Linked DNA regions of Homo sapiens: region 2 is linked to region 1. Evidence: fine-mapped expression QTL. A gene starts in region 1. The other region holds a variant in brackets. All regions are shown on one strand. Distances are from middle to middle.

Region 1 (5,373 bases):
ATCACGAGGTCAGGAGTTCAAGACCAGCCTGGCCAACATGGTGAAACCCCGTCTCTACTAAAAATACAAAAATTAGCCAGGCGTGGTGGCGAGCACCTGTAATCCCAGCTACTTGGGAGGTTGAGGCAGAGAATTGCTTGAACCCGGGAGGCGGAGTTTACAGTGAGCCAAGATCGTGCCACTGCACTCCAGCCTGGGCAACAGAGCGAGACTCTGTCTCAAAAAAAAAAACATTAATTCATTAGTCCATTCATTCATTCATTCGTTCGCATGCCAGACACAGAGCCAGGTACAAAGAGACATCTTGACCCCAGGAATGGGAGCAATGTCAGATGCTGGGGACTGCCTCGGCCTCCACCAGCCACACTCCAAACCCACCCCTGAGCTCTTCTCCCAGGCTCCCCTCCATGTCCTGCTCCCCAAACCCGTGTCAGTTGCTCACCTTCCAGACATGCAGCAAGCTTATCTCGAGGCGTCCTCGCTGTCTCACAAGCTGGAAAAGACCCAGGTGTTTACCTTTGGGATTGGGGTATGGCCAGGATGAGCTGGAGTCAGGGTGGATGGGATGTTGGTGAGAAACAGAAAGATGGATGAACAGATGGGAGGGACCAAGGAAGGAGTGGGGAAGGGGTGGATGGGTGGATGGCTAGGTGCAGCAGAAGATTCTCTGGGTAGAATTCTCTCACTGGGGTCCCCAGGCCTCCCTTCCTGGGGCAAATCCTTCCCGGTGCTCACCTGTGTACTTGGCCCAGAACACATCCTGAAAAACAAGGGCTGGGAGTGAGGCTACGGCAGCTCCTGTTTTGTGTTGTTTTAGTAAATGTTATGTCTCCTCCTCACACTTTCCTTTACCCTGGTCACGCAGGGGGCAGGCTCTGGGGAGGTTTGTGGCAGAGTTTCCTACTTTTGTTTCCAAAAGGAGAAGAATATTTGAGGATAGGGGAGTTCCTCCAACACACACACCGAGACTGAAAGAGGCTGGGGGAGATGGGAGGAGAGGGGGCAGTGGGACCCTGGCAGAGCCCTACAGACAGGAAAGGCGACACAGAGCTCCAGGAACACTGAGTCTTGAGCCCGGGGGCTTGTGGTGGCCTCCCCAGAGTCCCACCCCTCAAGGGTGGTGTGGGAGTCTGCCGCTGAGGAGGCCATGTGGACACAGAGCTCCAGGGCAGGTGGATGTCTGAAGACTGTGGAGGCCTCCCCATGTCATGGAGCTGCACAGGGACACAGTCCAGGCACAGAGACCCCCAGGAAAGGCTGAGGCCGCTCCTCTTGCCAGCCCTGTGAGGAGGGGCTCAGAGTTGAAATGAGGCTGTGAGCAGCGAAGGGGCTGTGGCGTTCCTCGCTTGCTTCTCTGTGGAAGTGTCTAGAGTTGGGCCCGGTCTGAGGCCCCGGCACCGTCCGAGCAGCCCAGGCTCACCGTAGCCGTGGAGGACTCCAGAGCCTCGAAGGCCTCCTCGTAGCTGCACGTCTCCTCCACGCACTCTCGCTCCAGGTTGCCCTTGCGCACCTCCTCCAAGAAGGTGTTGGCTCGCCGGACCCGCTGGAGCAGCGACCGTGCTTGCTGAGGAGCCAGGAACACTGTAAGGCGGTGGGGGGGTCATGGGACAGCGGCCTCAGGAACAGGCAGTCTTGGCCATTCTGGGGGCATGAAGCAAGCCCACCCTCCCCTGCTGGCTTCTGAGAGAGGCTGTCTGGGCTGGTGGAAGTGCCTGGAAGGCTGCTAAATGTGGCCCCCTGTGCCCCTCCTACACTGCCCCTTGCCCCCAGCCTGCTCCCTATATTGGAAGAGAGAAGCAGCCATTCTCTTTCCAGCCCTGAGCTCCTGACTTCTTCCCTAAGCTGGCCGCCTGGGGCTGAGACCTACTTAGGGGCCAGCTCTGTGTGCTCTGTCCAGCCAGGAGACCCCAGCCCATGGGCCCACACCCCAGTCCTCCAGCCTGTTCCAGCCTGCAAGCACTCCCTTACCATGCTGGCTGTGCACAAGGCTACACAGGGCAGCCAGGGCCAGGCAGCCAGGCAGCTGCAAGCCTCGGACGTGCGCCATAGTGTGTCAGCTCCTGGGTCACTGAGGAATTGTCTGTCCTGACCCCTCTGGGTTAATGTTGAACTAACATGAAGAAATCAGCGGAGAGGGTGAGGTCAGAGGGTCAGGGCCGTGGGGACGGGTGGGTAGATAGTCCTCCTGTCCATCTCCACCATCTGGGAGGACAGGTCCTCCTGGGAGCAGGGATGGATGGTCTAGGAGGAGTCACAAAAAAGGTCACTGTCACCCCCATCTCCCACCCTCCCCCTCTGAGATTTAGCCCATTCTGGCCAGTGGGGCTATGAGACTTTCCTGGAGCTCCTTCGAATCCTAACATATAGCGGTGGTTGCTTGTCATCTCTGTGTGCCTCAGTTTCCTCATCTATACAATGGGAATAATACTTTGTTGTGAGGACTAAAGGAGATTAGGAATGGAATGTCCATGGAATATCGTAAGTTCTTAATCAGATCTGCACATATAGGCCAATGTGGGGGTTTGTATAATCATAATACACAGATATCAAAAATAGAGACAAAGATAAAAGGTGTGGCCTGATGGAAGTTGCCCCTCGCCATGGGATGCACCAGGGATAGGAACAGCCAACATTTGCCCCAGCTTCTCAGCCACTGGAGGAGGGGCCCATTTCTCCTCCTTCCTGTCCAGGGTGCCTGGAGGTGTGTTTGTGTGTGGCAGCTGCCTGGGAGGAGTCAGGTCCAGGGACTCTTGGGCCTTTAGTCTATCTTCTGTCACCTCCCAGGACCTGCGCCTGTCCCGGAACAGGGGCTACTGAAATCCCTGGGTCTCCACTGAGGGGCCCTCCTTCTCCCTGGCTGCCTGCCCCATGGCAGGCCTAGAGAGGCTTCTGGTCCTACCCTACCCTCCGCCCTACTCCTGTCCCTCCCCCATTTCCTGTTTGCAGTACCCAAGGCAAATATTAGTCTAAGTAGGACAGAGGGACAAAGAGCAGGAACACGGGGAGGCACAAGTTCTCGCCTCGCCTCACCTGTCCTTTGGGCCTGGCTGTTTGGGGTCTGGACCAGGTCATGTGTGGGAACAGGGAGTGTTGGCAGAAAAACTGGGGACCAGGACTCCCGCAAACACCTTAATTCCTGGGAGGCCCATTTCTTATATATTTTCATATATATATTTTTAGGCCAGGCATAGTGGCTCACACTTGTAATCCCAACACTTTGGGAGGCCGACATGGCAGGATCGCTTGAGGCCAGGAGTTTGAGACCAGCCTGGGCAACATAGCAAGACCCTCATCTCTACCAAAAAAAAATTAAAAATTAGCTGGGAATGGTGGTGCATGCCTGCAGTCTGAGCTACTGAGGAGGCTGAGGCAGGAGGATCACTTGAGCCCAGGAGTTCCAGGCTGCAGTGAGCTATGATTGCACCACTGTACTCCAGCCTGGGTAACAGAGTAAGATCCTGTTTCTTTCTTTCTTTCTTTCTTTCTTTTTTTTTTTTTTTTTTGAGACGGAGTCTCGCCCTGTCACCCAGGCTGGAGTGCAGTGGAACAATCTCGGCTCACTGCAATTTCCATCTCCCTGTTCAAGTGATTCTCCTGACTCAGTATCCCAAGTAGCTGGAATTACAGGCGTGTGCCACCACACCTGGCTAATTTTTGTATTTTTAGTAGAGATGGGGTTTCGCCACATTGACCAGGATGGTCTCGAACTCCTGACCTCAGGTGATCCGCCCACCTCCACCTCGGCCTCCCAAGTGCTGGGATTACAGGCGTGAGCCACCATGCCTGGCCTGAATGAGACCTGTTCCTAGAAAAATAAAATAAAATAAAATAAAATTGAATAAATAAAATAAAATTATAATATATATTTTGGGTTTTTGTTGTTTTGTTTTTGAGATGGAGGCTGGAGTGCAATAGCGTGAACTCGGCTCACTGCAACCTCTACCTCCTAGGTTCAAGCGATTCTCCTGCCTCAGCCTCCCGAATAGCTGGAACTACAGGCACCCGCCATCATGCCTGGCTAATTTTTGTATTTTTGTAGAGACAGAGTTTCACCATGTTGCCCAGGCTGGACGTGAACTCCTGACCTCAGGTGATCTGCCCACTTTAGCCTCCCAAAGTGGGGATTACAGGCGTGAACCACTGCTACCTACCTGTTGGGTTTTTTTGTTTGTTTTTGTTTTGTTTTGTTTTGTTTTTTTGAGATGGAGTCTCACTCTGTCACCCAGAAAGGAGTGCAGTGGCGTGATCTCAGCTCACTGCAACCTCGGCCTCCTGAGTACAAGTGATTCTCCTGCCTCAGCCTCCCAAGTAGCTCCCAAGTGCATGCTAGGGATTACAAGCATGCACTACCACGCCCAGCTAATTTTGTATTTTTAGTAGAGATGGGGTTTCACCATGTTGGTCAGGCTGGTCTCGAACTGCTGACCTCAGGTGATCCACCTGCCTCGGCCCCCCAAAGTGCTGGGATTACAGGTATGAGCCACTGCCCGGCCTCTTTGCAGACTTTTACTCACAGTTGCAGGCCTGTTCAGTATATGACATTCTTATACCCAGAAATGGCTATCTTAGCCTGGGCTGCTATAAAATTACTGTAGGCCAGGTGCAGTGGCTCACGCCTGTAATCCCAATACTTTGGGAGGCCGAGGCGGGCCGATCACAAGGTGAGGAGTTCGAGACCAGCCTGGCCAACATAGTGAAACCCCGTCTCTACTAAAAACACATAAATTAGCTAGGCATGGTGGCACACACCTGTAATCCCAGCTACTCGGGAGACTGAGACAGAAAAATTGCTTGAACCCAGGAGGCAGAGGTTGCAGTGAGCCGAGAGTGTGCCAATGCACTCCAGCCTGGGCGACAGAGCAAGACTTCATCTCAAAAAAAAAAAAAAATTACTGTAAACTGGGTGGTTTAAACAACAGACATCTACAAGGGGTCTTCGAAAAGTTCATGGAAAATGCGTATTATGAAAAAAGACTGCATGGATTTAAAAAAATTTTTGTGCACCAAAATAAACTCACACTAACTTGCTATAACATGAGTGAACAGGATGTAGTTTGAGGCACTAAGAAGGATAAGACATCAGTTTGAAGCGAGCCCTTATCAGAGCTAAATGAATTCTGCTGAAATTGAAGCAAGAACAAACAACAAATTTACGGTGAAGCTTGGGTGGAAGAATGGTGAAATCACTGATGCTTTATGAAAAGTTTACGGAGACAATGTCCCAAAGAAATCAGCAGCTTACAAATGGACAACTCATTTTAAGAAGGGACAAGGCAGGCCGGGCGCGGTGTCTCATGCCTGCAATCCCACCACTTTGGGAGGCCGAGGCAGGTGGATCACTTGAGGACAGGAGTTCAAGACCAACCTGGCCAC
Region 2 (5,373 bases), 22 kb before region 1:
AAAGGCACACAAGATTGCGCCCAGAGATTGGCTGGGCTTCAGTGGTTCTCACACTACAACTAGATTTGTGTTCATTTGACTAATGGAGTTTGGGAAATCTTAGTGGTTTGCTGCTTGGTTGTATGAGTCTCTTTTGGTCCAGGCTAACAGTTGCTTCACATTCAGTCAGAGTAAGGATGAGAAAGTGAGCTGAGTATTCACCTCTGGAATAAATTCCACAGGACCTCCCTCCACAGTCAGAAAAACTCTTCAGGATGAAAAGGTTCTGGATTCAGGAGGAGATTTTGGGCAGTTATAAAGTTCAAAGGAACTTTCCTATTGTAGCCCACCTTCAATTCAATTGATGTCCAAGAAATGAAAGATTGATGGAAGATTAATCCTGTAAAGGTTCCAGTCATCGTTTTCAGGTGGCCCCGGAGCCTCCTGAAATTAAACTTGTCTCTCCTTTATAGTGGGAACATGGGAGTGGGTATTTGTTCACTGAAGGGATGATGGAGGCGTTTGCTGCTATAGTGGAAAGACATATTTAGAAAGAATGGCTACAAAGGCTGGGCCTGGTGGCTCACTCATACAACCGTAGCATTTTGGGAGGCTAAGGTGGGTGAATCACTTGAGCCCAGGAGTTCAAGACCAACATGGGCAACATGGCTCTACCAAAAAAATACAAAAATTAGCTGGGTATAGTGGCTCAAGCCTGTAGTCCCAGCTACTTGGGAGGCTGAGGTGGGAGGATCACCTGAGCCCAGGAGGTCAAGGCTGCAGTGAGCCGTGATCACTCCACTACACTCCAGCCTGGGCAACAGAGCAAGACCTTGTCTCAAAAAAGAGGAGGGAAACAAAAGAAGAGGAAAAAAAAGAGTGGCTGTACTCCTGTCTGGAATTAGCACAGCTGACTGGAAAAACCCAAGTCCCTAGAGCTTACAACACTGACCGCTATGTCGGAAGAAAACAGACTTATGAGAATGTGTGTTCTTGTTTAAAAAGCAGGTCCTGCATGTCACAAGTAATTCTGAATCCCTTCCCCCTTGATCGAGTTGATGCCCTGGGCTGCCAAATCCTGCAAGCTCACTGCCTTTCAGTCAACCAGAACCAAAGAATGAGGCCAAGGAACTCTGTCCTGTTTGTTTTCTGATGTGTTGAAAAATGAGAAAAAAAAAAAAAAACGTTATGAGGAGGGTGCTAAAGATCCCTATCTCAGGTCCCTTCCCGTGGAAAACCACGTTAGAAGATCCTAGGCCAGGTACTGTAGCCACAGGGTTTCCCTGCTCCACTCCACTATCCTGTGCCTGAGGCAGACGTTGATCTTCATTCTTTCCCTGAGCTCATGGATGAGACTTCTCAAGACGGAGCCATGCTCCATCCCACACCTGTGACCTCTGCCAACAGTAACCGTGAAGAATGTGCTCTGAAAGGGTATCTTTGAAGTTCTATGATTCTTTTTTTTGCAAGGGACTCTTGCTGTGTCGCTCAGGCTGGATGGCATGCAGTGGCATGCCTCTCTCCTCACTACAACCTCTGCCTCCTGAGTTCAGCCAATTCTCCTGCCTCAGCCTCCCAAGCAGCTGAGAAGCTGGGATTACAGGTGCCCACCACCACACCCGGCTAGTTTTTGTATTTTTAGTAGAGACGGGATTTTACCATGTTGGCCAGGCTGGTCTCCAACTCCTGACCTCAGGTGATCCACCAGCCTCAGCCTCCCAAAGTGATGGGATTACAGGCGTGAGCCACCATGCCCAGCCCATGACTCTTATAACTTAGAGGTCCCATTTCTTGGAAAAATAAATTGTTCCAGCTGGGAACTGCTGTGTGAGGAAACATTCCAGGAAGCAACTACCCCACTGATGGGCTATTTCCAGGGCCCAAGAGAGGGACGAGGTAAGCGGCAGAGGAACTTTCAACAGGCCCAATGCCCGGTCCAGTTCCCAGGCAATAGTGAGAATACGAGTGGTAGTGATTCACAGCTTACTAGGCACTAGGCATTGTGCTAAGGCACCATGTAAGTTCTTTCATTTAATCCTCATAACCGTATGAGGTAAGTAATGTCGTTATATACACCTTTTAATATACAGGTGGCCTTCCAGATCTGTGGGTTTTGCATCTGCAGATTCAACCAACTGCAGATTGAAAATATTTGTGGGGAAAGAAAACAATAAAAATAATACAAATTTTAAAATAATACAGTATAACTATTTACATAGTATTTACGTTCTATTGGGTGTAAGTCATCTAGAGATGATTTGAAGTATATGGGAAGGCCGGGCAGGGTGGCTCATGTCTGTAATCCCAACACTTTGGGAGGCCCCGATGGGTGGATAACCTGAGGTCAGGAGTTTGAGACCAGCCTGACCAACACGGTGAAACCCCATCTCTACTAAAAATACAAAAACTAGCCAGGCGTGGTGGCGGGCACCTGTAATCCCAGCTACTCGGGAGGCTGAGGCAGGAGAATCACTTGAACCTAAGAGGCGGAGATTGCAGTGAGCCGAGATCGCACCATTGCACTCCAGCCTGGGCAATGAGCAAAATTCCAACTCAAAAAGATAAAAATAAATTTTAAAAATGAAGTATATGGGAGGATGTGCATAGGTTATATGTAAACTGTGCCATTTTATATAAGAGATTTGAGCATCT[G/A]TGGATTTTGGTATGCATGGTTGGTTCTTCTTCTTTTTGAGACAGAGTCGCTCTGTCGCCCAGGCTGGAGTGCAGTGGTGCAATCTTGTCTCACTGCAAGCTCCACCTCCCAGGTTCATGCCATTCTCCTGCCTCAGCCTCCCACGTAGCTGGGACTACAGGCGTCCACCACCACGCCTGGCTAATTTTTTGTATTTTTGGTAGAGACAGGGTTTCACCGTGTTCACCAGGATGGTCTCAATCTCCTGACCTTGTGATCCATCCACCTCAGCCTCCCAAAGTGCTGGGATTACAGGCTTGAGCCACCGTGCCCAGCCCTGATTTTTATAAACAGGGTTTCACTGTCACCCAGGCTGCAGTGCAGGTGTAGTGACATGATCATGGCTCACTGCAGCCTCAACCTCCTGGGCTCAAGTGATCCTCCCAAGTAACCTTGACTACAGGCACATGCCACCACGCCTAGCTAATTTTATTTTTTGGGGTCTCACCACATTGCCCAGACTGATCTCGCATTCCTAGCCTCAACCTTAGTCTCCTAAATTGCTGAGATTACAGGTGTGAGCCACCATGCCCTACCTGATCTGATATCATTTTAATGATACAAGGGAAGATGTAGGGAGTTAACTAAAAAAGCACCGTCCTCACTCAATATTTTCTATATTTGAAGTCCTACTTTGAGCTTTCTTAGCCATGTGACTTTGGACAAGGTACTTCTCCAAATCTCAGTTTACTCACCTACCTCTTGTGAGGATTAAATGAGATAATCCATTAAAACCCAGAGGGTGGAACATCTTTAATGCCTGTAAATTCAACCTGCCATCTTTCCTCTCACCTGGCCCTGCTCTGAAGATAGATAGTGGATTCTTTTGGGACAGGGTCTCACTCTGTCACCCAGGCTGGGGTGCAGTGGCTCACTGCAGCCTCCACCTCCTGGGCTCAAGCGATCCTCCCACCTCAGCCTCCCGAGTGCTCGGACTACCAGCGTGCACCAGGTGGTGGATTCTTAAGTCTTCTTTATCCAGTAGTATTACTGGCTCTTCCTGAGCCCAGAGAGCTGCCCATGAATAGCACTGGGAGCATTGAGGCTCGCTGAGAGTCACTTTTATTGGGAACCATAGTTTTAGAAACACAAAAATAATTCTTTCACGGGATTGGTTCCAGGAGCCCAGAATATGAGTGGCCCCCTACTCTCCAAACTGATCAATGACCTTCTGTATCCACTTCTTCAGGCGGAACACATGTGTGTAGAAGCCATATTTCCCATCCCGGTCACAGCCTTCACCCCATGAGACGATGCCCATTTGATACCAGCGGTTGTTAAAGGGGCTCTGAAGAAGAAAGATGAGGTTTCCAATAGAGTCAAGTTCAAGGTCACATCAGTATTCCCCTGCCAGGCAACTGTTTCTAGATACTAGAGTTTCTCCCCACCCCCAGAAGATGTGTTCACCAGGCCCTGGGCTTTAGAGAAGCTTACCTTCATGACAAAGGGTCCCCCACTGTCACCTTCACAGGCATCCCCTCGTTTCCCTTCATCAGGCTTGTAACCTTGAAAGAGAACAGCCGTCTGTGCTCAGGAGCATAGCTCATAGCCCAGCCACGCCCCTTCACGAGACACAGCTGGTGAGAGTCCACTTACCCCTCCAGTCATTCTTGCTGTCCCCACTTCCTCACCCTACCCATCCAATCCTAGCAAATCTTGTCGGCTCTACCTTCAGCATAGACCCCAAATCCAAACCCTTCTCACCACTTCTAGCTCGAGCTCCTGAACCCACTAGTTTCCTTCATTCTTTGCCCACCTACAGTCTATTCTCCACCCAACAGGCAGAATAATGCTTTTAAAAAGTTGGACCAGACCAGGGGAGGTGGCTCATGCCCAAGCCGGGTGGATCACTTGAGCTCAGCAGTTCAAGACCAGCCTGGGCAATATGGCAAAACCCTCTCTCTACAAAAAATTAGCTGGGCATGGTGGCACATGCCTGGAGTCCCAGCTACTCGGGAGGCTAAGAGAGGAGGATCACTTGCGCCTGGGAGGTTAAGGCTGCAGTGAGCCGTGATCATGTCACCACACTCCAGCCTGGGCAACAGAGTGAGACCCTGTCTCGAAAAAATTAATTAATGATAAAAGACCAAGAAAAAAATTTAAATTAAAAATTAAAAAATTAAAAAGTTAGACCTACAAGTCTGATGAGGATAATAATGATAGTTGCTTTTATCCAAATCTCCCCACGTATCCTCTACAAACAATACAGAACAACACTAACAACAGTAAAACCTACACAAAAAAACCACACCTTCACTAGGTGCTGTGGCTCACACCTGTAATCTCAGCACTTTGGGAGGCCAAGGCGGGCGGATCATGAAGTCAGGAGTTTAAGACCAGCCTGGCCAACGTGGTGAAACCCTGTCTCTACTAAAAATACAAAAATTAGCCAGACATGTTGGTGTGCGCCTATAATCCCAGCTACTCAGGAGACTGAGGTAGAATTGCTTGAACCTGGGAGGTGGAGGTGGAGGTTGCAGTGAGCCGGGATTGCACCACTGCACTACCGCCTGAGCGACAGAACAAGACTCTGTCTCGAAAAAAAAAAATTAGCCGGACATGGTGGCATGTACCTCTGATCCTAGCTACGTGGGAGGCTGAAGCAAGAAGAGGATTGCTTGAGCCCAGGAGTTCAAGGCTGCAGTGAGCTATGACTGTGCCACTGCACTCCAGCCTGGGCAACAGAGCAAGACCCTATCTGA

The links. PIP is the estimated chance that this variant, and not a neighbour inherited with it, causes the effect.
Region 2: its variant is fine-mapped to the expression of F2 in cerebellum (GTEx, PIP above 0.99).

The regions. Positions count from the first base shown.
Region 1 is chr11:46,715,910-46,721,282 of GRCh38, reverse strand. F2 (coagulation factor II, thrombin) reads right to left here and starts at 2,070. Exons shown (of 14, transcript NM_000506.5): 1 at 1,969-2,070; 2 at 1,421-1,581; 3 at 736-760; 4 at 443-493. The coding sequence starts at 2,047.
Region 2 is chr11:46,737,851-46,743,223 of GRCh38, reverse strand. It overlaps F2 (coagulation factor II, thrombin), which reads right to left. Exons shown (of 14, transcript NM_000506.5): 13 at 4,106-4,176; 14 at 3,718-3,959. The coding sequence ends at 3,816. CKAP5 (cytoskeleton associated protein 5) reads left to right here. Exons shown (of 44, transcript NM_001008938.4): 44 at 1-176. Among named protein-coding and RNA genes, the nearest start is that of MIR5582, 13 kb to the left of the region's middle. The variant G/A (reference allele first, on the strand shown) is at 2,632.